3 separate regions of the Homo sapiens genome follow, and regions 1 and 3 are each reported to be linked to region 2. Evidence: microRNA targets listed by miRTarBase, many of them from high-throughput screens and not tested one by one. Region 2 holds a microRNA gene; each other region holds the end of a gene's coding sequence.
The links. Region 2 holds the annotated microRNA hsa-miR-4770 (UGAGAUGACACUGUAGCU, at 3,450-3,467, opposite strand). A microRNA usually pairs through its seed, bases 2 to 8, with sites in the 3' UTR of a target mRNA and lowers its output. Matches are read on the target gene's strand: a 7mer-m8 pairs with bases 2 to 8, a 7mer-A1 pairs with bases 2 to 7 and ends in A, and an 8mer does both.

Region 1: the mRNA of CENPP is a reported target of hsa-miR-4770. Seed matches in the 3' UTR shown: 7mer-m8 at 3,260-3,266 and 7mer-A1 at 7,292-7,298.
Region 3: miRTarBase lists ZBTB37 as a target of hsa-miR-4770. The part of its 3' UTR that is shown has no 7-base or 8-base seed match.

What each region holds. Positions count from the first base shown.
Region 1 is chr9:92,611,858-92,620,038 of GRCh38, forward strand. CENPP (centromere protein P) reads left to right here. Exons shown (of 8, transcript NM_001012267.3): 7 at 666-757; 8 at 1,162-8,181. The coding sequence ends at 1,292. It overlaps IPPK (inositol-pentakisphosphate 2-kinase), which reads right to left. Exons shown (of 13, transcript NM_022755.6): 12 at 7,629-7,708; 13 at 1,326-4,200. The coding sequence ends at 3,975. LOC100128361 (a long non-coding RNA gene) reads left to right here and starts at 6,193. Exons shown (of 1, transcript NR_036505.1): 1 at 6,193-8,181.
Region 2 is chrX:6,380,458-6,388,876 of GRCh38, forward strand. It overlaps MIR4770 (microRNA 4770), which reads right to left and starts at 3,506; the gene lies at 3,449-3,506.
Region 3 is chr1:173,884,081-173,892,499 of GRCh38, reverse strand. ZBTB37 (zinc finger and BTB domain containing 37) reads right to left here. Exons shown (of 5, transcript NM_001122770.3): 5 at 1-6,864. The coding sequence ends at 6,376. Among named protein-coding and RNA genes, the nearest start is that of ZBTB37, 20 kb to the right of the region's middle.

The DNA of each region.
Region 1 (8,181 bases), not on the chromosome of region 2:
GTGGACATGTATCCATCTGGGTGTGCTTTTATGACCTGTGTGTGAATGCCTCAACTCAACTGGTTTCCAAGCTTTAAAATCATGTGGTCCTTATGCAGGCTTCTGGGACTTGCCTTTGTCACCGTTCACCTCCTCCAGGGTCATGAGCAGCTGCAGTGCAGTTTCACTGCTCATCCTCCCGGAGGGGATCATACACAGCGTCTTGCTGCGCTCTTCAGCTCTGGAGCACGTGGCTTCTTTGTTCTGGCTCACACCTCCTGGCACACAGTACATAAGCTTCTCCTGGGCTCAACTGCCTAGAAATGAAATTCCTGTGTCATGCATGGATGCATGTTCAGCTTACTGTCAGTGCCAGATTATTTCCAAAGTGGCTTGTCCATGTCTGCTCCCACCAGTAATTTTGAAGTTTCTGTTGCTCCATGTTCTGTACTTCGCTGGTATTGGCCTACTAATGTTTGCCAATGCAGTGGGGACAGAGCAGCACCTTCCTGTGATCCTGGTTCCATTTGCCTGTGCTACTGACTGTGCCTCTTCTTGGCTGTGGATTGGGGTTTCTAGCAGGGGAGCCCAGCATGGGGAAATGGAGACCAGGTGCGACTCATGGTTGCTAATCTTTTCGCCAGATTTCAAAAAGCACATAACGACATGTTTTACTGCTTTTTCAGGTTTGAATTAGTCATTGTTTGGAGGATACAAATAGATGAAGATGGGAAGGTTTTTCCAAAGCTGGATCTTCTCACCAAAGTCCCACAGCGAGGTAGGGCCCTGGGTGTGGCTGCTCTAGGTGACTTCTCAACATGCCCAGCAAAGCCGCCTGCCTGTTTCCTCTGGGTTTCAAAGGGCAAGAATCAAAAATTGGAAATCTCATTAATGTACTTTGTCTATCAATTTTTAAATATTTTTATCAATAATCACTCAAAAAGAACATGAAAAGGGATTGCTGCCCCAAGGCCCTCCCAGGCTGAATGCACAGGGAATATGCCTCCAGCCGTAGGTGAGGCCTCCACTCACTCCATCTCCTCGCCCGCCACTAGCATGTCCCATCCCATGCAGCTAGTCGGGAGGAGTGCGGGGTCTTGGTGAGGTCCATGCCAGCAGAAAACAAAAGACCAAAAGCTGCCACCTTGAAGTTTCTTACCCGGTTTAATGTTTTCTTTATAGCCCTGGAGCTGGACAAGAACAGAGCCATAGAAACTGCTCCTCTCAGCTTCCGAACCCTGGTAGGACTGCTTGGAATCGAAGCTGCTCTGGAAAGCCTGATAAAATCGCTTTGTGCAGAGGAGAACAACTAGTTCCAAAACAGTGAACGTGGAGGATGAAGATGCTGCGTGGAGGAACATGCAATTTTATTCAATATAAACATTTGCTATTTTCTGCTTAGAAACCACACCCTGAAGACGTGCTGTCTATGCAGTTATGGCACATTATATGGAAACTCTCATGACATGAAAAATAAATACAACTAGTTAAGTATAAAATGCCAAATAAAAGTGACACGTACAATGTGGTTTATAAAAATAAGCTTAACATCTGAGAAAATGTACCAAGTGGTTGTGTGTCCTCAGATGTGTGGGGAGGATCCATCCCCCACCCACTGCAGCCTCACACCGAGTCCACCTTGGACATGGTGGCCACATTACTCAGCTGGGAGAAGCCACCCTTATCCTGGTTCCTGCCTCCTGGGGGCTCTGGAGACGGATGCCTATGGCGCCTCATCTTTAAACTGTCCTTAGTAGCCCAGGGGAGCCACACCCTCACTCCCTGCCTCCCCCCGGTCCGCATGGTGGCACCGTGAGGCAGTCTCAGCAAGTCCTCATGCTGTTCTTGGTCTTCCACAAGAAAGTGAAGCTGTCAGCTTAATAACAAGAATGGCCTAAGACAGCAAAGACAGCACTGTTCCTGGGCTGGGACGCAAGGAATGAGGTCCTTTATGAAAGAAAGACCCCCCTGCATAGCCTAAGTGCTATATCGATCGTCCCGGATGTGCCTTAAGAACCGTGACCTCATCAGTCGCCCATTTAGCATTGTTAAGATCTGTGAACGCGTGTTGTCTCAAACCAGTCAGGGCCGTCATGACTACGCAGCAGCAGCAGTTTCCAAGACGGGCCAGAAACGCATCCACAGCAGTGGCACCCGCGGCTCAGGGGCTCCTCACAGCCCGGGCTGGTGGGAGCCAAGACCAGACAGAGTGGGGGTCTCCATCTGTTTTCTCTTCTCCCTCAAATACAGGCTGTTTTCATCGTGTCTAGTCCAGCCCTGTCTGGGCCCTGTGCTAGGCAATAACTCTTGCAGCCCTGAAGGACCTAGGGAGCCCAGCCCACCTTCCCACGGACTGGGGTTCCCTCACATGTGCACTTGAACCCAGGACCCAGCATCCTCCACACACCGTGACAATGGGCAAAATCATCCCAAACCAGGCTGCCCCAGCCCCAGCCCAGCAACAGTGAACTCCCTTGGGTCAAGACAGTACTCAACGGCCACTACCTCCACGCTTCCCAGAGCCTGCGGCTTGTCCGTGAGCTCCGTGCACTTCACCAAAGCCCCCATCCCAGCACACAGGACCCGTGTGTATGAGACGGTGTCATTGGAAGTGAGAAGAAAACAGTAAAAGTGTCCAGTTAGATAAGTATCTTTTTGCACCTCTGAGAGTAGAATTAGAAGTAAATATGACAGAATTGAACAATAAATTCTAGAAGAGTTGCCTTGATTCAAACAAGTATAATTCTCAAGTTATCACAAAATTTCCCACAAAAATTTACAATCAGCAAAATAGTTTCCTTATTTCTCATGTATCATTTTCATATAATTCCATGGTTTCACTAATATTATATGTTACAATAAGCCTCCATTAGTCCCTCAAAACGATGATATAAATAAGTCTGTACAACCTAGCATAGAATAAAAAACTGAAACCAAGATTCCCAACGTTTTTCATAGCAGCCGGGCACACTTTGGTGACCCCAACGAGAACCCTCTCGGCAGCAGCCAGGAGCTGTTCACCTTCCAGAAGCAGGGCCTGTGGCAGCCTAACAGGGAGAGGCCACGGGGCCCAAAAACGCAACACGTCTCAAGGCAAACCCGAGGGAGGAACTTGGTCTGGGAGGAAGAGAGAACTCGCTCCTCAACCACCCCAGACACTGGAGTGTCAGGAAAGCACTGAGCTGTTGGGGCACACTGCCCAGCCCGGCCACAGCAGCTCAGCCAGTCACAGCTCCACCTCCAACTTCTACAGCAGCAATTTTTAGTGGGAAAGAACAGCTCATCTCCCCCTCATGTGAAAGATTAAATTGTAAAGCAAAAAAAAAAAGGTCAATGCTCGCATGAGTGGTGTCCATCCTGACCTGAGCCTTGCGCTCCCTGCTGCCCTGTGTGGAACTGTGGGCTTCAGCACCTCCACAGGGACCCTGAGTCTACACTGCTCAGAATCGGCATCTGCGCGACCACGAGGTCACGCTGTGCAGCAGGGAACCACCTAAAAACCTGTGTTGATATGTGGCTTGCACTGAAAAAGTGACCATGTAACTCAGCTGGGGGAAGTTCCAGTAGTATCCATGTTTTCTTAAAAGTCCAAACTGTAAAATGTATGTGACAATTCAAGTTTTCTATGTTAGGAGTCTGGTGGTAGCAGATCCAAACCTTGGGTCTTAGAATAAGGCTTTTCGCATTAGAGAATCAGACATGAGCCCTGGTTGGGAAAGAAGAACTATCCAGAACGTCTTCCCAGGGCTTAACGGACACTTCCATTTTAAGAGTGTGAGCAGCTTCCTGGGACACAGCACTCACTTCCTACATTCCTTGTCCAGGAAGTTGTTTCTAGTGCTCTTCAATTCCATGTCTCCAAGAGGCAATCCCACCTCAAAAGGGGTTAAAAGCAAAAACATTCACAACCAAAGGTCACCCAACACAACAGAAAATATCTCTATCATTCAGCCTTCACATTATGTTCAAGTTTCAAAGACACTGCAGGGAAAGAGTTAGACCTTGTGGAGAACTAATGTGCAATCTTCGCTTTCCTTGAACCGAGTCGACATCACGGCGTTGTCTTTGGCACGTACAGTCTTTGAATAATAGTTGACGATCTTGCCGTCCAGTTTATACTGATGGGGAATGCTCTCGTAGGGCTTGAGGTCAAGGTCCAGCACAGACACGGAAAAGGCAAACCTGGACCTCGATGAAGGGACGACAGGCCTTTGATCAGAGCTGCAAGTAAAAAGTACCATTTCAGGATACACAAGCCCCCCATTCATTTCCCTCCCTCCCGTTCTCTCTCCCTTTCTTCTTTCAACTAGTATGTTTTTATGTTTTTTCTTTGACTTCTGCAAAGTTAGATAAATCAATCTCTTTTAAAAGAGAAGTGAATGGCCTCACACCCCAGCTCACAAAGAGCACTCGTTCTGTGCACCTGTGATCTGTGCGTGTGACAGCTGTCTGTGCCGGCTGTGTGCACCAGCGTGCAAAGCTTCCTCAGGCCAGTGCACCCCACCATACCAGGCGAGAGAGGGTTAAAGGACTGAAAGATGGAAAAGTAATTATGTGGAACATGTGAGCGATGTTCCCCCAGCCCAGTGGTATAAACGAACGCTGAAAAATCACTTTATCATGAGCCAAGTATTACAAAACCCAACAAAAAGTAAAAAGTAGATCTGGCCATTCCAGCGCCAAATGGATGGAATGTCGACAAGCCTTCTTCTTTGCCTCTCCTGTCTGCTGAGAAACGCAAGCTCCTTTGGTTCACATTTGAAGAGATCTGGTTTCTCATTTTATTCTCAAATTTTATCTTCAGTCCTTTGTATTTTGCTTCTCAGGGCTTAGTTTTGTGGTTTTAACCTCAGAAGTCGTGTGCTTATAACAAGATGTGATTAATTATTTGCCCTGAAAAACACATTTAGGATTACTCCGAGTCCTGAGCTCTGACTGCTGTGTGTCCCGCTTTTCGTCTCCGGGCACTCAGCGCACAGCACTCAAGACACTGGCTAAACAAGTGACCTAAGCTCAGTTCAGTCCAAGAGAAGTATCCTGGGTTCTGGTGTCCCAATGTTTACTACGCTTTGAGATTTAGAAATCAACAAGCCAAACCCCAACTTCAAAAGCTCCTGCCGAGGAGAGGAAATACTGATCAGCACGTCCCTGCTCTGACGCTGCTCACCATGGCCTTGGCGCTCACTGCTGCCCTGCCCCAGAATCCTGTTTGTAGAAAAAACAAATCCCTGACTAAGCTGCTGGGGTAAGTAACTATTCTCATCTGAAGAGTAAACAGCAAATAACTCATTTACAAATTAAGGTCATGAGTCTCGCTCCAGAAGCTGGAGTGTGCCTGCAGCTCATCCCAAGGGGCCACATTTTATTGGGAGAACCTCAGAAGCCCAAGGTACTGCTCAGTTCTGAGGCCTGAGACCCAAGCTGGGTGCACCTGGGCTGGAACAGTCACATCCCCAGCCCATGACTAGGGTTACGTATTTTAAAGGACACCCCAATTTCTCAGAAGCAGCACCTGACAAGACCATGGGTGTAAAGACAGGAAGGATGTTCCAGGCAGCTCCCGGGGAGGGTCTGACTACCTGGGTCAACCACAAGCTAGCTCCATGGGAACCAATGGCAGTGACCAGCGGGCACCAGCTCCTGACACAGAAATGCTCTTCTTCCCCCTCAGTACCCCGGAGGCCAAGACTGGGCAAGAGGCCCCAGGGACACACCTGTCCCTTGTGCCACAAGTGTGCCCTCTAGCAGCCTTGGAGAATGAGGCTCAGGTGGCCTTCTGGCTGCAGGGGGGCAGCCCTTGCCTGGAAGGCCGTTCTCCAGGACACTGACCCGCTGGGGGTTACCGGGGGACCAGCAGCCTCCAAGGGTGCTGGGGATCGGGGTGGAGAAGCCAAGGCCGCACACTGTGTTTCAAATGGGAGGTCGAGAGGAGCATCAGGGTTTAGGCCGGGAAGCTGTGGCAGCTCTCTCCACAGTTCCAAATTCCCAAAGGGACAAAGCTCTGCAGCGACAGGAAGGCAGATCCAACTTGAGACATTTTCCTTTATGACAGGGCAGAAACAGTAGTGCAGAGCTGGAGAAGCCTTTATTTTAGGGGGTGTAAGAAGTTTAAATGTGGTCAATCTATCTGTGAGCTGCAAATTAGTCTAGGGATCTAAATTTAGTCTCAGGTCTACCAGGTATCTCAAGACGCCAAGATGACTCATGATAAATCCCAGCCTTAGTTTGTCCCTAGGCCTCTAGAGCACCACAGTTACTGGAACTTCACAGGTGCGGCCACTGCGCACACCTTCCTGGAAGCAGGCCCAGCCCCACACGCCATGTTCTCGGAGGAGAAGCCTTCTCTGAGATCCTCTCCTTTTGTTGAGAAAGGCCTGGCTAGAGTGCTTTGTGCAGGATGGTTCCAGTGCCTACACCCTAGGTCTGAGAAGCCACATGGCTCAGTGCCTTCAGGACATGCCCTCCCCTCCCCTCCTAGTGTCGTTTCTGCTGAGCAGCTGGTCGTAAGGACCCGGGCCTTCAGCTTTCCCCGCATGCTGGCTTTCCAATTTGACATCACTGACCAGGCACTAAGAGATTCCCAGGTGCTAGACGAGGTGAGTAACATGTCTGTCCTTCAGCGGCCTTTCACAGCCCACCTAAGGGCACCCTGCATCCAAGCACATTTCCATTGCCCAGCTGCATCCTTGGTCGGGGGGCTGCTGAACAGTGGTATCTTCGTGGGTTTTCTCTCATCGAACACCACCAGCTTAATCCAGTTAAGGAATTCCTCATAACTTAGCCCTGTAGGTATTTCCTTAGGGGATAACAGGAGTTTTCAACTAAATAGAACAACCTTTTTTCTACTTCAGTTAGCCCTATAATGTTCCTCAGTATTTCATATTGGAAAGTAAACAATTCTGTGCCTGCCAGGGAACAGGAATCCTGGGAACTGTTTAGTTCAAAAGCACCGGGAAAGTGAGTGGCTGGCAGCCAGCAACCAAGGTCATCTTGACCCAGGAACACATGTTAGAAGAATGTGGAACATTCCGCAAATACTGGGTGCAGGGTTTAGCACCCCTGAAGATCGGTGATGGAGATGCTGTCTAACGACTATGAGATTATCAGTTTCATCCCGAATTCCCAGAAACAGAGGGGACTGGACAAAACTAGTGACATTAGGGAGAGGGGCGGCACATAGGCTGGTTATTCAGAAGAGGAAGCAGAATGAATGCGCGCCTCACAGGCTTTCAAATGACTGTGGTGGTAAAAAGGCAGGTGCGCCATGCTGCCACTGTGGGAGACCGAGGAACAAGGGCCACAGGTACCCACACATCTCAGGGGCTGGCTTTCTTTGAGGGAATGCAATGGGCAGCTCACTGTCCACATTGTTTCTGAGCTCTTGGGAGTATTTTCTTAGAAAACAGTAACTTTCAATGTACTAACAATCCTTTTAAGTTATTCTCCATAAATCTGTCTTTTGACTGAATTACAAGCTTCTAGAGGGCGAGAGTTAGTAAGCCCCATGATGTCACATAGGCCAAGGAAGTTATGTCACTCCGCCATGGAGTCTCTAAATATGGGGAAACCAACTATCCTATTAACAATTCACCAACTGTCCATAAAACCCCGTTAGACCCAGGCTGCATGCCTTGCAGTGGGGGCCTCACCTGGCATCCTGCAGACAGGGAGACAGTGCAATCATGATGGAGCAGTCCTTGGCAGTCATGGCGACGCGGTACTGCTGCACCTGCAGGGGCGGGAAAGATCAGCTCCAGGTCACACAGGAAGCCTCTGCCCCCCCACACAACCTTCCTTCCCAGTAGCCAAGTGTGGGAACTGCTTCCTGCCTCAGAACCTGAGGGTGGGATTAGGAGCGAGGGCCACGGTGAGCACGGGCGTCAGGAGGTCGCCCTGTGAGAGCACCTGGGCCAGCCCTCAGTGCCACGGGGCTGCTCAGAGGCCAGCACCGCCCCCTGACCTCTCACGGCAAGCAGTGTGGGACCCCGACTCCAGACCCTGAGACGGATGATCTGTCTTCAGCAAGGTCACCACAGTCGGCCTTTGGAAGGAAAAGCAGTAAGCCACCTGAGCCCCGCATGTTGGCCACACTCAGAGTATCAAGTGAGTATCACTCGACACCTGCAAGGAGAGCGCAGGGGGTGTTCAGCAAGGCATCGCTTAGAACGACATTCCCTCCGGAACATCATACAGCCACCAGAG
Region 2 (8,419 bases):
ATACTTATTGAAGCAGACGCCTCTTCCTCCCATGAACGGGGATGTGCCTGTACCCTTCCCAATCAATCAGCTAAGAAAAACCTCTCAGAGGGGTACAGTAGGCTGTCTTACAGCCCACATCGTAGAGACAGGCCAGCCCTGTGGAATCACGTTGGTTTTTGAAAGGCACAAATGAAAAGATACACTGAGAAGCTTTGGAACACAAGATACATTTTATACGCCCTTTGCAGGGTCGTATTCAGCCAGAGTCCGCCACATTACAGACATAGAAGATTTTCAGGGTCTTCATGGAATTCTTGCTGGAAGTAACTGGTGCGTTGTTTTTGAAGCTTCCTTTGATCTTGAATTGGGTCTATCAGGTAAACACACTGACCTGTCTTCTTAGCAGCCAATTGCTGGTGACCTTTCCACAGCTTGTGTCCATCCAGGAGTTCAGCAAAAGCCTGGCCTTTCCTCCTGCTCTGAGCCCAGCTCTCTACCAGCCGCTTTGAATCCTTGCCTGGATGGTACCTACTTCTCTGCAGAGGCAAATCAACACAGTAGTGTCATGAATCTGTACTAGTTTATTAGTTTTAGTTTTCTAGGACCGCTGTAACAAATCATTACAAACTGGGTGGTTTAACATAATAAAAATTATATCCTCTGCCAGTCCTGGAGAACAGGAGTCTGAGAACAAGGTATGGGCAGGGTGGCATGCCCTCCGGAGGCTCTAGGGGAGGACTCTTCCTGCCTCTCCCAGGTCGTGGGGGCTTCAGATATCCCTAGGCTTGTGGCCATATCACTTGTCTCTGCCTCTGTCTCTATGTGGCACGTGGCATTTTCCTCTGTGTCCATGTCTCCTCTTCTGTCTCTTAGAAGGACACTGGTCATTGAATTAAGGCCACCGTAAGTCAGAATAATCTCATCTCCAGATCTGACTTTAATTACAAATCTGCAAAGACTATTTTTCTAAATAACGTCATATTCCGGGTTCTGGGCTTTATGATGTGGATTTATCTTTCTGGAGGCAACTGTTCAATCCACTACAATTGTATCCAGTCCTTTCCAGAGATGCTAGAGGAGGAACCTTCCTGCCTCTCCCAGCTCCTGGGGGCTCTAGGCTTCCCTGGGCTTGTGACCACATCACTGCACTCTCTACTTCCATCTCCACGTGGCCTTCTCCTCTGTGTATGTGTCTTATCTTTTCTGCCTCTTAGAAGGAATTTAAGATTACAACTGCTGCTAGATTTCCCCTTATTGCTCTGGTTAAGGAGTCCGTGGAGTCTCCTGTAGTATGAAAGGTTTCGTTTTACATTGCAGTCCCTTACAAGGAGGGCTTAGGCCAATGTCTGTGCTGACTTCCCTTCTACATCTCTGGATTCTGTCTCACCGGCTCCCTGTCATTTCCCCAAAGATGTCCTCCACCCACCTCATCCTACTCTTCATCCCTGCAACATCTGTCCTTTTTTTTTTTTTTTGAGACAAGATCTTGCTCTGTCACCCAAGCTGGAGTGCAGTGGTGCGATCATAACTCACTGCAGCCTTGATCTGAGTCCAAGCGACCCTCCCAGCTCAGCCTCCCAAGCAGCTGGGACTATAGGCGCTTGGCGATTTTTTGTTATTTTTTTGTAGAGATGGGAGTCTCCCTATGTTGCATAGGCTGGTCTCGAACTCCTGGGCTCCAGTGATCCTCCCACCTCAGCCTCCCAAAGTGCTGGGATTACAGGCGTGAGCCACCGCACCCAGCCGACACATTTAAAGAAATGTTTTGGCAACTTATCAAATACCCACAGATTGGATCTAATCATTTAAAAAACACAAACTTGGTTGTAGACTTTCTGTCCTTCTGAGGCCCCATGACTATGTAGTCCCAAACTATTCTCGCCGATCACAAAGGAACATTCTGTTTAGGGCTACTTTTACCTTTGCTTAGACCATCCCTTTATTCAATTAATGTTTGAAACATCATACAGTGGGGGAAACAGCCATGCTATGGAGTGCGCAATGTTTGTTAAAAATTAAACAACCACTCACCCCTCCTTGCCCCAGTGACCTTTTCTTATCTAATCTTTTTCTTGGCACCGGTAAAGAGAACAGCCTTTCTTCACATAATCGCTCCATGGCTTCTCAGCAGAACATAACCAACCGCCTTGCTGAGGTGGCCTAGGGTGACCGGGTCTTCCTATCTTTTGTGCAGAGCTCTTGTCATGCGCAGGAGTTTGGGGAGATGCCCCCCACCCCCCCGCAAAAGGTTTCCTATGGCTTTAAAATAAGAGGTAGTTCAGGAACATTAACTGTTCACTTTACATTTAAGATATGATCTCCTGGAGATGTTGATGTGCCAGCTGGTCTTGTTGAGAGGCAGTTACTGATCTAGCAGGTGTTTATAGATTTTACACCTGTCTTGTTCTTTTTTTTAAAAAGAAACAACCTGCAACTAACTAACTTTATTTCGTATGTTAATGAGACAGATGTGAAAGAACACAAAATCAAAATGCTTCCCAGGATTCACAGCTCTAGTGTTCCTTGGCTTTATGGTTTGGAAGGAAAGCTGATTTATATAGGCAGAGGCTCTCTATATAGGTCCTTACCTCCCCTGTCCTGTTGTTTTGGAATGTGAGCAGAACACACTCAGGTCTACTGTATGAATAGGACACCCTGCGCCCTGAAATTCCATCAGCTTCACAGATCTCTCGTGGATTCTCTCAGAGTGATGACTCCCTCTCCCTTTCTCCAGTGTCTGAACACTACGTGGTAAGGGACTTTCCACGCACAATATTACTCTCAGCAGACAGAAGATGCTTTCCTGGAGAAGAAAGCGGCAGTATCTTCCAGAGGCAATTGGAGTTTTCAAATGTTGGTGGAGTTATGGGGTTGAAGGCTCCAGCTTTACTGGGTAGAGTCTCACGCCTCACAGTGCGCTTGCCCTGGGGCCCACTGGCTGTGTGTGGGTGCTTGTCCTCAAAACTGTAGCAGCCCAGTGCCCCTGGAGAGCCACTTTACCCAGCATCACTATTAGGTGCTCTGCCAGCTCTGTGGCATGGAGAGGAATTGTCTGGTAAGAACGGAATGTTTTCCATTCTCTCCATCAAGAACTCGAAAGGCTGATTGACAGGTGCAAACGCAAATCTGGTCATCTAGGCTGAATTACAAGATGTCTGGTGGAAGTTAAGAGACTTCAGGAGGTATTAAGAGGGATGGAATACCTGGAATTCCTTGGGGGCCAGGAGAGTTGAGCCATCCTCAGAGATGTGTGCATACTGCAAACCTCCTTTAAGCCAGGGCACTGGTATTGTGGGAAGCCCAGTTAGGGATTAGAGGGATTCCAGAATTAAGATCAACAAAGCAGTCTGACACCCTTTGGGGTGCCAGAGATTATCACTTAGATTGAGGACAGGGGAAAGGGGGTACACTCAACTCAATTGCTTCCTATAAAATCTTACAGACATCAATGATCCCAGAGGATGGGGAGCTACAGTGTCATCTCAGATCATTTTCCAAGGGAAGGATAGATGACCCCATAACTCATTATCTCTAAGAGAGAATGAGATTCCACATGCAAGATAGGAATCAAAACCCTTTTCACCACCTTCATTGACTCAGTTATGCAAATGGCCCTAGCTCATAGCCTCTAAGCCCAGAGCAGACAGTGCATCCTGGTTGCTGATTGCATACCTCCTGATGGGTTGTAACTGTGTGCTTTACGGAGGGCTAGTGTAAACATTCTCATTGCAAAGCGTCTTGCATGGATGAGCAGACATAGAGTGGCATTTGCCGGAGCTGAGCACCCCTGACTTCAGAGTTCACGTTTGGCAAAGTGATTTGTTGCACTACTTGGCAATTGAAGCATCCCGAATAGCTTTGTTTTATGGGGTGGGGGGCGGGGGCGAGGGGAAGAGAGTGGAGCTTTCTGTCTCCCTACTAATCAGGAGGGTCCTTGTTTGGGCTTTAGGCCCCTTCCCTTGTTTTCTGGGCAGAGGAATTGCCCCTAGGAATCCTCTGCAGGCCCTGCCAGTTTCAGAGCTCCCTCATTTTCATCTCTCCACTTCAATGAGCTCATTCACTAAGGCTTTCCCACAGCCCAGGATCTGACTTGGGTGGGCCTGCTTGGGTTTTGTGTGCCTCTGTGCCAGGAAGAGAACAGGCACAGGGCTCTGCTTGGCTATTGCCGGCATTCCTGGGCTAGTGCGTCACGGGGTCTCATGGTGACAGCATTCCACTGGAAACACGGAGTCCCGGAACCCAATTTTGAAAGGAATCCTCTCTAAAAATCTTTCAGGAGGGAGAAAACAGAGATTTCAGAGAGTTAACAGTGCTCCTCAAAACAGCGTTTGTCAAGGAAATTAGTAGCGACTTGTATGACACCCTCTTTCTCCTGTGATTTCACTTTCCTAAATGTTGATTGCTCCGGGGTGTGGGGCTTTTTTCTTCTATACCCAAAGCCACCTAGTAGAAGGGTTAAGTGCATAGACTTTTTCCAGGCGATCTCTGTGTTCATAAAGAGAAGTGGGGAAAGGGCTCTAGTGTTTCAAATGTAAAGTAACCATTGTTAGGAAAATGACTTATTCTTTCTTTCATTCATTTATACAAATGTAAGTTCTGGCTATGCTTAGCTACTCAAGGGAAATCAGAGGCAACTGGGTCCTCTAGGGATGTTTAGCAATATCTGGACACGTTTTTTATTTGTCCTCGCTGGGAGGTTGTTCCTGGCATCTAGCAGGCAGAGGCCCAGCGATACTACAGGGCACATGCCAGCTTCCCATCATAAGAAATATCTCCTTCCAAATGTCAATAGTGGTGTTACCAGAAAGGGGTCTCTATCCAGACCCCAAGAGAGGGTTCTTGGATCTCGCACAAAAAAGAATTTGAGGTGAGTCCATAGAGTAAAGTGAAAGCAAGTTGATTAAGAAAGTTAAAAAAAAAAAAAAAAAGAATGGTTACTCCACTGAGCTGCTCCACCGAGGATACTTATTATTACTCCTTCATTATATGCCAAACAAGGGGTGGACCATTCATGAGATTTCCAGGAAAGGGGTGGGCTGTTCCTGGAGCTGAGGGTTCCTCCCTTTCTCAGACCATGTAGTGTAACTTCTGGATGTTGCCATGGCATTTGTAAACTGTCATGGCGCTGGCGGGAGTGTCTTTTAGCATGCTAATACATTATAATTAGCATATAATGAGCAGTGAGGATGACCAGAGGTCACTTTTGTTGCCATCTTGGTTTTGGTGAGTTTTGGCCGGCTTGTTTACTGCAACCAGTTTTGTCAGCAAGGTCTTTATGACTTGTATCTTCTGCCGTCCTCCTATCTCATCCTGTGACTAAGAATGCCTAACCTTCTGGGAATGCAGCCCAGCAGATCTCAGCCTTACTTTCCCCAGCCCCTATTCAAGATAGTGGAGTTGCTCTGGTTCAAACGCCTCTGACAGTGGGATGGTTGAGAAACTTGGGGGTAGACCAAGGGCAAGGCAGCAATCTCAGCCTGTGGAAAACATTTTAGTAGATGCCATTGTAATGTCTGAAGTCATTCAATTATAATGTCAAACTCACTGCAAAACATGCATTATCTAAATATCTCTTATAGTTAGCTTTCTTTCTCTCTCTCTATTTTGCTCTCTCTAATTCTACATTTTAAAATCATATATGTACTGACCAATACGATGTTTGGCTGATCATTGGAAAGGCAATTGGAGAAACTTAGCAGCCCTGTTGAAATCCTCGACATATGCCATCTCCATGCAAATTCAGTACAAGGCACAATAGTAAAGTGTGGCTATGATATCATCAACTTTGAGGGGCCTCATTTCCCCCCCTAAATCCCTAGTCTCAAAGCCTGACTCCACTTTCTTCTGCCAGCCAAGAAGCTTGTCAAAGCCTGAGGGCATCATTGCTCTTTCCCCATTTCTAGCAGATGGCCGTGTTGTGAGACATTTAATCCACTGACTGAATCAGTTACAGTAATACCAGTGGCTTCTGAAGATCAGCCTCAAATAACAGTAGCTCAATGAACATAAATGGCATCAGAAAAACACAAGTAACTGAAGAAATTACAGGGGTTTATGTCCGCTCTTTCTTCGTTCAGAGAATGTTATTCTGTGGGCATTACTGAAAAGGGAGCTTTTGTTAATGGCTGATCTTAGAAACCAGACTTCTTCTACATTGTGATTCTACTAACTCCAACATGAGACATCTAAGAACAAGTTGGGGATTTTTTCCATTGCAGCCAGCAAGGAACAGAAAAGAGCGTGAAGGTTTGCATGTCATAAGTAGCACACAGCACACAACCGCCCCACCCAACCCCACTGGTGAGAACTGGGCTCCACAAAGACCTCTGGCACATGGGAAGCTTGGAAGTGCATGTAGCCTTGTGTGCCTGGGATGAAGAAGACATGGGTTTGCTGAGCCAGCATCTGATCTGCAAGGTGCTTCATCATTTCTTCACCATGTGACCTCTGCAAGTGACTTAACCTGTCCGGACCTCAGAATGCTCTTCCACATAATGAGACCTGCATGAGAGTAACTGTCAGGTCACATCTGGCTCCGGATCTCATAATTCTTTCTGTCTTCACTTTCATCCAGGCCCTTTACAACCAAGCACCTTCACTTTCAACCAAGCACCATGGAGAGCTCCTTTGGCTGATTTTTGTTTCTCATAATCTGACTGTCTTCAATAACTGTATGAGGATTCTTCAGAGAAATACAATCAACAGGATAAACTTATCCTATTGATAGATATGTCTATTTATCTATAAATTAAATAGAAATAATATAGATATAAATAGATGGATACATATATAGGTGGATACAGAAATAGTTATAGATACAGACAGGAGATTTATTATGGGAATTGGTTCATGCTATGGCAAGATATGGAGACCTAGCAAAGCTCATTTTTTAATTTAATCCAAGACTGAAGTCCAGAAAACCATAAGAGCTGACGGTGTAAATCCTGGAGCCCCAAAACCTGGGAAACAGGGCCTTGATTTTGCAAGGCAGGAAAAGGTGAATGTCTCAGCTCAAGAAGAAAGAGAATGTACCCTTCCTCTCTCTGCCTTTTTGTTCTCATTAGGCCATCAAGGGATTTGACAGTGCCAGCCCACATTGTTGACTGATCTTCTTTACTCAGTCCACTGATTCAAATGCTAATCTCTTCTGGAAACACTCTGGCAGACATACTCAGAAATAATGTTTTATCAGCTGTCTGGGCATCCCTTAGGCCAGTCAAGTTGACACATACAATTAATCATCAGAGTAGAGTTTCTAGTAATGCTTTTGGTTCTTCTAACTATTTTTGAGGGTACAAAGAGCGAGCAAGACCACTCTTTGGAAACTAGCCACAGCCAACCACGCCAGCCAATTCTAAAGCCATCATGCGGGGAGAGTGAGCCCTACAGTTCCCAGGTGTTGGGTCCCCATCCCACCACTGGAGGCCACCAATAAAGCAGGTGGTGGAAGGTGGATTCAGGGGCATCAACTGGAGTGACATTTGACTGGGACCAAGTCAGTTGAGGATGCATCACGTAGATTTGAAGTAATTAAAACATGGCTACATATGTAAGGTGAGGGAAGCATCTTCTTTCTACTCAAATTCTCTCTTGTCCTTCTGCAAAAAGCAGAGCTACTTGAACCACATGAGGCCCAGTTTGTCACCTCATTCTGACATAATTTTTTCTGGTTTATTATTACAAAATTTTAATGAGAAGAACGCCTCTAAGACAAATGCCCTAAGAGGAACATGGAACATTCATCTTTATTATTCTTTTGGCTCCATTTGACCAAACTCCCTTTGTCTACTTAGCATATTCTTATGGTTTCTTGAATGCAAGTATTCTCTTTTTTTCTCTCTCTCTTCTTTGATTTTTGTCTGTTTTTTTTCCAACCTATACAACTGCCACTGAATATAGTGATGCATTAAGCATAATAAATCTATAATTAACTGATACCATTTCCTCTTCCAAAATTAAACTTCCACCTTTTACATCTATTTCCAAATTTCTTGTTTCTGTCTGCATAACAAAATGCATCTCTACCTTTTCCAACATATTTCTGAATTAGCACTAGGCAGCATGCCTTCTTTAAGGCAAATAGACAAATTTAAAATTATATATTAGAAAACACTTCTTGTTCTCTTTCTTTCTGTAAACTACCTGAGTTGAACCTGCTTTACTTCTTCTCTGCTTTGTATCACTTCCTTGCTATTCCTCCATATCAATAATTAACCTGTTGACCTGTCACTCAAGACTGTAGGAAATCTTGCTAACACATTTGTGTCTGCTTTTATCACCTTTCACCTCTCAATGCACACACTCTGCTGAACTGAGATTGTGTTCTGGTCTCACAGACAATTTTCACATAACTCTGTGTTAATATTGCGGGGTAGACAATTTTCACATAACTCTGTGTTAATATTGCGGGGTTTTTGTTTTCGTTTTTTTGAGACAG
Region 3 (8,419 bases), not on the chromosome of region 2:
TTCAGATGTTTCAAAGTATTCATAATATCTAACTCTGGCTTATCCTGAACAAAAAAGCCTGCTTGCTTAGAAAGTAGAAAGACTGGCCCTGGGAAAAGCACCATTTAAGAGGAAGAAGACTAAAGACAGGGAAAGAGACTAGAAAATACGAAAAAAGATAAGACTGAAAATTATCAAGGAAGTCATAATGCTTGGAAAACTCCATTGCTTTCAATAGATGCATATTTAAATTGACATCTATTACCAAGACCTCAAATAGAGTGGGATGCAGATGATTCACTGGGCTAACAAAATCCAATTTCTTTCACAAGTCCCACCTTCCAGGTTAATCAGAATCCTAGGTTAATCAGAAAAGTAATACTCCAAAATCTCAAAAACCTACTGTTACTATAGGTATAACTGCTCTAAGCCAGGGGAGATCTAACCTAGGCAAATATTCTGGAACTTTATAGATGAGGATTATCTATTACTCAGAGGGTATATCATATAAAACTTCCTAATATCCAATTAGAAAGCAGCAACTTTAAAATACCTAGTGAAGAGAGTCCCTATTATAGAAAGCTAGTTACTCACTTGAACTTTGTCTATGTTGACAGCGCTCACAACAGATTCAAACTCCCTATACTGTATCAGCATGGCCTAGAAAACTTTGTCAAGATAGATCTAATTCAAAAGTCCCTATATCATTTCCAAATGGGAAGCAATTATTCTCTCTTCTTGCAAGGATTTTTTTTTGTTTTAGAGATAAGGTCTATGTTGCCCAGGCTGGTCCTTAAATTCCTGGCCTCAAGTGGGCCTCTCAGCTCAGTCTCCCAAGTAGCTGGGATTATAGGTGTCTGCTGTCACACCCGGCTTCCTGCAAGGATTTCTGTTTATGAACCCCCTAACATTTCCCATTTTTCCCACATCGAGTATAAGTAGGCTATCTGAACACTAAGAATGAACATTCACAAAGCAAACATGTTAATGGTCCAATATGTATTTAGAAGAATTATAGACAATAACAGAAATGGGAAGATAGGTCTAAAAAGAATTTGAAATCCTCAGATGTTTCATTATGTTTCAAAACATCCAGGAAAAAAGGAAGAAAAACTTGGCTTTTTACTGCTCTACATGGAACAGAGTAAGTTTAAAGAAGTTAAAATTAAGATACATTGCAAAGGGAAAAGGTAGGGGTTCTAATCCAGAAAAACAGTACTTTGGATATGAATCAAAATACTTCTTCATAATGAAATTAGTTTTTAATCCACTTGGGAAAAAATTCATTCTTGTCACCATTATGCAAACCAGTTCAAGTTAACTCAGAGGAATGGCAAAACTTACTTACAACTAAACTTTAAAATACCGGCACCATTAAGACAAGGACAAACAACAGGCCAATTCTAAATGCTTTTAAAGTAATGGGAATCATGAAGGAGCACAAAAAAATCATGAAGGAGCACAAAAAGAGTTATGATAAGAGGATCTAGAAAAAGTTGGCAAACTCTTTCAAGAAAACATGTATATGTGACAACATGAATTTAAAACTTCAACCAAACTATTATAAAGGCAAAATGTCATGAGTAACAACTTTAGGAGGTAATTCTTTCTTGGAGTTGGCAAATTTTTTCTAACAAGTACCAGACAGTAAATATTTTCAAGCTTTGTAGCCACGTGATCTTTGTCACAAGTACTCAACTTTGCCATTGTAGTAGAAAGAAGGCATAAACAATACCTAAACAAGTAAGTGTGGCCCTATTCCATTATAATTTTCTTTACACAAGCAAGTAGCCTCAGCATTTGGCCTGGAAACTACTGTTTGCTGAACCCTGATCTAATTCCGTAAGTCCTAAGGGTATATTTTGCTGAGGACATCTTCTCAAACCTAGGGATTTGCCCGACAATTGCTTGTTGCTTTTCTAAATCTGCTTAGCAACCAAAGTATTTCAATATTTTAAACTCTTTCACATATAACCTAAATAAAGAGCTCAATTTCCAAAGACTAAGTTCAATTAAGACTCATTTGTTATTCCTTGAACTAATAAGTACACAGATAAGGGGAAGGACATTTTAGGAAGAGAAAAAAATCATGCCTCTTGTACCTGAAAAAAAGAAAAACTTCCAGGATTCCAACTCTTCCTGATTAAATGCCTTTCACTATGATGAAGAAGACTTTTGTCTTTGTTCAGTTTCCTTTCCATTATCCATTGCTTTCATTTAAGTTAGACAGTCTGGTCAAACAAAATAAATACAGTTTTCACCAGTTAAAAGAAACCCAATTAATGTCAAGTAACAGCTAAAACTCTGGAAAAGTTACTTCTTGACCAAAGATTATTCAGCTATTAAGAATGACATTTACAGCCAGGTGTGGTCACACGCCTGTAGTCCCAGCTCCTCAGGAGGCTGAGGAAGGAGGACCACTTGAGCCCAGGAGTTTGAGACCAGCCTGGGCAACATAGTGAGACCCTGCCTTTAAGAAAAAAAAGAAAAAAATGAAGTTCCCTACTTCACTCTGCCACCAGACCAATTCCAACCAATACCAGATGTCAACTATGAAGTCGGGGGGAAAAAGTTTTTTCTATCTTCAAACCATCTTTGGAAAACCCTGTTTCACTGATGTAGAGGGAACTGGAAACATTTAAAAAATGACAAAAAATAAAATTTTCCTTAACTGCTCTCTTCATTCCCAAACTTTATCCTCTATGAACTAATTTACCTTTATGTATTTGAGATTAGATTTAACCCTCTATTATAATAAAAATGGCATGGGGTAGTTTGCAACTTGGATAAAATAAAATTCAACTTGGTTCAGAGGTAAATACGGTTCTGAGTAAAGAGAGAACAAGTCATTAGAAGGAGCCTTTCTGCCTAAGTACAGCATTAACTGTTCATGCCAATGCTATATTTTATACTGGTATTAGAGTTCAGACAGAATAAAGGAACATCTTAGTATGAAAATAGATTAATATACTTCCGTCTCTCTTCTTTGCTGAGAATACTGGATAGCTCCTTTGCTACTAAGTGCCACTCAATAAATGAAAACAGTCCCAGTGTTTGCAATTTCATGGCATTAAAGTACTTCATGATGATGTAGCTCTCATTGCTAATGCAGTTCCCTTCACAAGGTAACACGTGCAAGTTAAGATTTGGTAATTAATTTTCAGCATCAACCAAACAAAGTCCATTTAGTACATCCTTAAGAGGTATCCTCTGTGCATACACCAATAGCTGTTCATTAATGTAGATAGAACATCAGTAACTCCTATGACCAATGTGTTGTTAGCTAAGAACTAGGACAATGTCACAGTGTATGTGGGTAAGAGTCTTGGACAGTTATTTAGAATAACAACATCTCTTTTAACGAAAAAGCTGAAATTGTTTTCAGAAGTTTTAATTTGTTTAAAAGCTAGCCTGCCTTAAATTTTCATGAATTTTGTGGCTCTGGCTAGGCCAATTGAGAGAACCAGCAAACATGATTGTGCTAAAGTGGTCCTAGATGACCAGGAAGCACCCTATTCACAGTATCAATATAGGAAAAGGCTATTTAAAGTGAATGAAAAGAAAAGGGAGGGGAAACCCACCAAACATTCATAGCATTTCCACATGAATGAGATAGTCCCTACCTCATTTGTTTGTTGCTAACCCTGGAAGGAGAATTGACAAATGCTGCAAAGTTTCTCTTTACAGAAATTACTGCACTTCACCTTTAAAATTTGGTAATAGTTTAAAAAGCTCCATTTTCTCACATATAATCTAAGAAACTAACAAAGCAACAAAGAATTCTTTCTCCAGGCCAAGTTCACTGGCTCATGCCTGTAATCCTAGCACTTCGGGAGGTCAAGGTGGTAGGATTACTTGAGGCCAGGAGTTCAAGACCAACCTAGGCAAATTTTGTAGAGACACCGTCTCTACAAAAAAATTTAAAAATTAGCTAGACATGGTGGTGCATGCCTATAGTCCTAGCTACCTGGAGGCTGAGGCAGGTCAATCACTTGAGCCTAGGAGTTCAAGATTACAGTGAGCTATGATTGCACCACTGCACTCTGGTTTGGGTGACAAGAGGAAGACACAGTCTCTAAAAAATATAAAAAAGAAGAAAAAGAAAAACAGAACTTTCTAGCATACTATTTCTCAAAAGTAGGATGGACTTAAAAGTTTTTTGGTAGGCTTAAAGGCTCCATCCAAAGCAGCATAATCTGTACTTCTCACCTCACTGCCTATTTAGTAATGACAAAATCTGTCCACTGAAAACCTTATTACCAGTTGTTTCCCTAAGGATTTTTGGCTAATTCAACTTTACCTTTTCTATGCCACAGAGCACAGCCAGTCCCTAAAGATGGCTTTAGAAGACAGTTTTTTCCTTATCATGCTGTTGTCTAACTAAAGCGGAGGATGCACCAGTCTATGTCTTCTAAAGACAAAATACAGTTTCAATGCTGCCTTTAAGGGTAGGCTCTTATTAAATGGTAGCATCATTATCTTCCCATAAAAGATGCATTTCTATGCTTTTTCAGAAGATAAAATAACCTTTCTCTTGTGAGAGGGTGCAGCTTTATGTACATGTACAATTCTCAGATTGCTTAAGATCTACCCTTTGCATTCTAATTTCTTATCTCAAAGAGATTTCTTTCTTTTCTACCCACCTTTTCACATACCACAAAGCAATCTCAGGAAAGGAGCACATGACTAACATTCTCACAGATGGTTCACCAGTGCAGGTACAACCTGTCCCTCTGCCAAATCTCTTTTACAGTCATCTATGCCTCTGCACTGAAACAATTTCTTAAACCATTACATACTTAAAAGAACCCCAACAACTAGTGCTCCGTCAACAGAAGCTAGAGATTTTTCAACTTGCACTGTAAGTTATAAGCATCTATTTGCCGGCATCCCTTAATATTCCTCCTTCTCTCACTTCATGAAAGACGGGGTATCCAAAGCTCTACATGTTTGCTAAGTTCTTTCTCTCAGTGCTGGATTAAGAATCTTAGAAATACCCAGAATTACTAAAAGGGTCCCTTGAAGTTTTAAAAATCTTAGGAATGACTAAGTAACCAAACCTGACCAAAATTGATCCTTTGATCATTTATTGCAACATGATTCTGCATGATGTTTTCTGATAAGTGCCCTGTAGTATATTATTAAAAAGCAAAGCTCTTGGAGTCACCAGCTATGGTTTGCTGATGGTTGGTTTATGAATTACTAGGTTTGCAGACCCGAGACATAGTTTTAAGTGAGGTCCTTCTATATGCCTGAAAATATAAACTATTACATATGTATAAGGAAATGAAATTGTGGTTGCAGTAAGAACCATAGTGTTGAATTTCTTCAACCACAATACTGCAGAAAAAACATGTTTAAAACTTCATATAAAAGTTATCAAATATGGAGACCTGTGGATTTAAAAATACAATCCAGGCTCATTTCACTGGAAAGTGACATTTTTGATTACAATATTGCTGAACGTGAAAATAGGAGCCAAAGAGACTAGATGAAACTTTGGTAGTCAGCCTAACACATTAATTCACCTGAACTAGAGCCATTACCCAAGGATGTGTAGCACTATGGTTTACAAATACCAGTCAGGAAGTTGCAGAACGGCTCTGTGCTGTTTGATATTTGCAAAACATAAAAACACTTCCCTCCCTGCTCTCCTCTTCCTCAACACAACACTCAAGCCCCCCAAATGTAGCAGTACCTATTGCATACACTTTGCTGCTCATTTCACTCCCAGTTGCCAAGTGCTTCAGGTGATGTTGTCCACTAGAATACTGCTTCAAGATGGCTGATTATATGAAATAACCAGGCAAAGTATTAGATGCCTAGTCAGGGGAAAGATAAAGCCTAACCTTTCAAAATAAGAACCACCAGTATTCATTTTTTTCTTGAAACACAAAAATGCATGTTATGCCAGGGAAGGAAGAGGAGAAATTTCTCCTCCTCATCACCATCATGACTACCTCCTCTCTTGCGGTTGGCTGCTTCGGATGGTTGAGGCTCCTGCTGCATTTTTTAGATCCGGGCAATTATAGCCACCAAGATGATATGGACCAAAGTACAGTGTTCAAACATGACTGATAGATAAATGACCATTTATCATCATCGTTTTGTTAAAAAACCTTTTTTCTTATAAAGTTAACAAACCAAGGCTGTTGATCCCTGAATTAGAAAGTTGATTTGCTTGATTATTTTCCAAAGTGTGAGGCGGGCAATAAGAAGGGAGGAGCCTTTAGTGCTTTTGTGTAAGTTGCTGATCCTCCAGTTTGGCAACATCTTGGGAGCATCTTCTGGCCTAGTGATGTGGCATTTTGTGAATCTAAGTATCAGCCCATGGCTCTGATGCTGGCTGCTTATGGCTCATAGGGGAAGAGGGTCAGCCCCCTCCCCCTGGATGTTTCAGTCTGGCCCAGTGGTGGACACAGAGCCCTGGACAGCTTCCCCAGGAGCAACTGTCTCTTCCTGTGAAGGTGACTCTTCCTCAGCTTGTCCTCGAGATGTGACAGTTGTTTCAGGGGAGATGCTGTGAGGCCCCTCCAGGGGTATACAGCCAGGGTGGTTTTTGCGAAAGTGCTGATTCAAGATGGCCTGGAAGGGGAAACTTTTGCCACAGACATGACAGTGAAAGGGCTTGTTGCCTGTGTGCTTGCGGATATGATACTCCAGCTGATCTTTCCGGGTATACTTCTTGCCACACATGCGGCAGACGAATGGTGTGATCCCCATGTGTAGGCGCATGTGGCGGTCCAGGCTTCCCTTCTGGTTGAAAGATTTGGCGCAATAGATGCAGGTGAGACGAGGGTTGTACCGGAACCACCGCTCAGATACTTCCTGCTCTCGGAGATACTCCACATAGCCACTTACTCCCATCATTGCTGACTCTTCTACCTGTACCAGGTAAGGAAAATAACCAAGAAAGAACAAATATTATTAAGCATACATATTAAAAGCAATCAAATCTATTTTTACTTGTTACTAAGATATATGTACCTTTTTAGTGGCGGATCAAACAGAAAATTATTACCAAAAAGTAAAGATATTACCATAATAATTTTTAAAAAATTGAGACTACTCTATTCCATTACTATAAAAGAACAACACAGTAAAGTTACTTTCTGGCTGACAAACTGGATGCTTATTAAACCCCTGCTGAATGTACTATTTTACAGTAATGTGAGGAGAAACTGAGCCCACTTATACTATACCCTGGATCCTAATCTTACAATTATATTCTAGACAATCAAATACTTAGGCAGTGCTGGTCTAACAGAACTATCTGTTTTTGTTTTTGTTTTGAGACAGGGTCTCTCACTCAGGCTGGAGTGCAGTGGTGTGATCACGGCTCACTACAGCCTAGACCTCCTCAGGATCAGATGATCCTCCCACCTCAGCCTCCTGAGTAGCTGGGACCACCAGCACGCACCACCACTCCCAGATAATTTTTGTACTTTTTGCAGAGACGAGGCTTTGCCATGTTGCCCAGGCTGGTTCTGAATTCCTGGACTTTGGCAATCTACCCACCTCGATCTCCCAAAGTGCCAGGATTACACGTGTAAGCCACGACGCCCAGCCAGAACTATCAATGATGATGAAAATGCTCTACCCCATTCATTACAGTAGCCACTAGCCACCTGTTGCTATTGAGTATTTGTAATATGGCTAATACAACTGAGTAATTTTTACAATTTTAAGTGCTTTCAGTTAATTACAATTTAAATTTAAATAGCCACATGTGACAAGTGGCTAATGGCTACCATTTACTATATCAGATAGTATAGAATATATAATGGCAACATATTATAAATTGTGACATTATCATTAATACCACATTTTAATCTAGCAGTAGCTAGCTTTATAAAAATGTATACAATTTGTAGGTGACAATATTCCTTTTTATGTAAAATATTTCAGTATCATATGAACATATTATTTTCACTCTAAAGACTACTAAAGTTTAACTGACTTCAGAGTAAATTGTCTGAGGGCATGGGTTTCTTTTATCCGAAAACTGGGAGGCAGTATGAACATATTCCTTTCAATAAATTACTTAAAAATCTTGGATTTAAGGCCAGATGTGGTGGCTTATGCCTATAATCCCAGCACTTTGGGAGGCTGAGGTGGGAGAATAACTTGAGCCTAGGAGTTTGAGACCAGCCTGGGCAATATAGCAAGACCCCACCTGTACAAAAAATAACAATAAAAAATTAGCTGGGTGTGGAGGTGCGCACATGTAGTCCCAGCTCCTTGGGAAGGCTGAGGTGTGAGGATCATTTGAGCCTGGGAAGCCAAGGCTGCAATAAGCTGTCATCAGGCCACTGCACTCCAGGCTGGGTGACAAAGCAAGACCCCACCTCAAAAAAAAAAAAAAAATCTTTGGATTTAGAAATGCTTTTTGTTCAAAATTCTGTATTAAAAAAATCAATCAGAAATTATTTTTTTAACC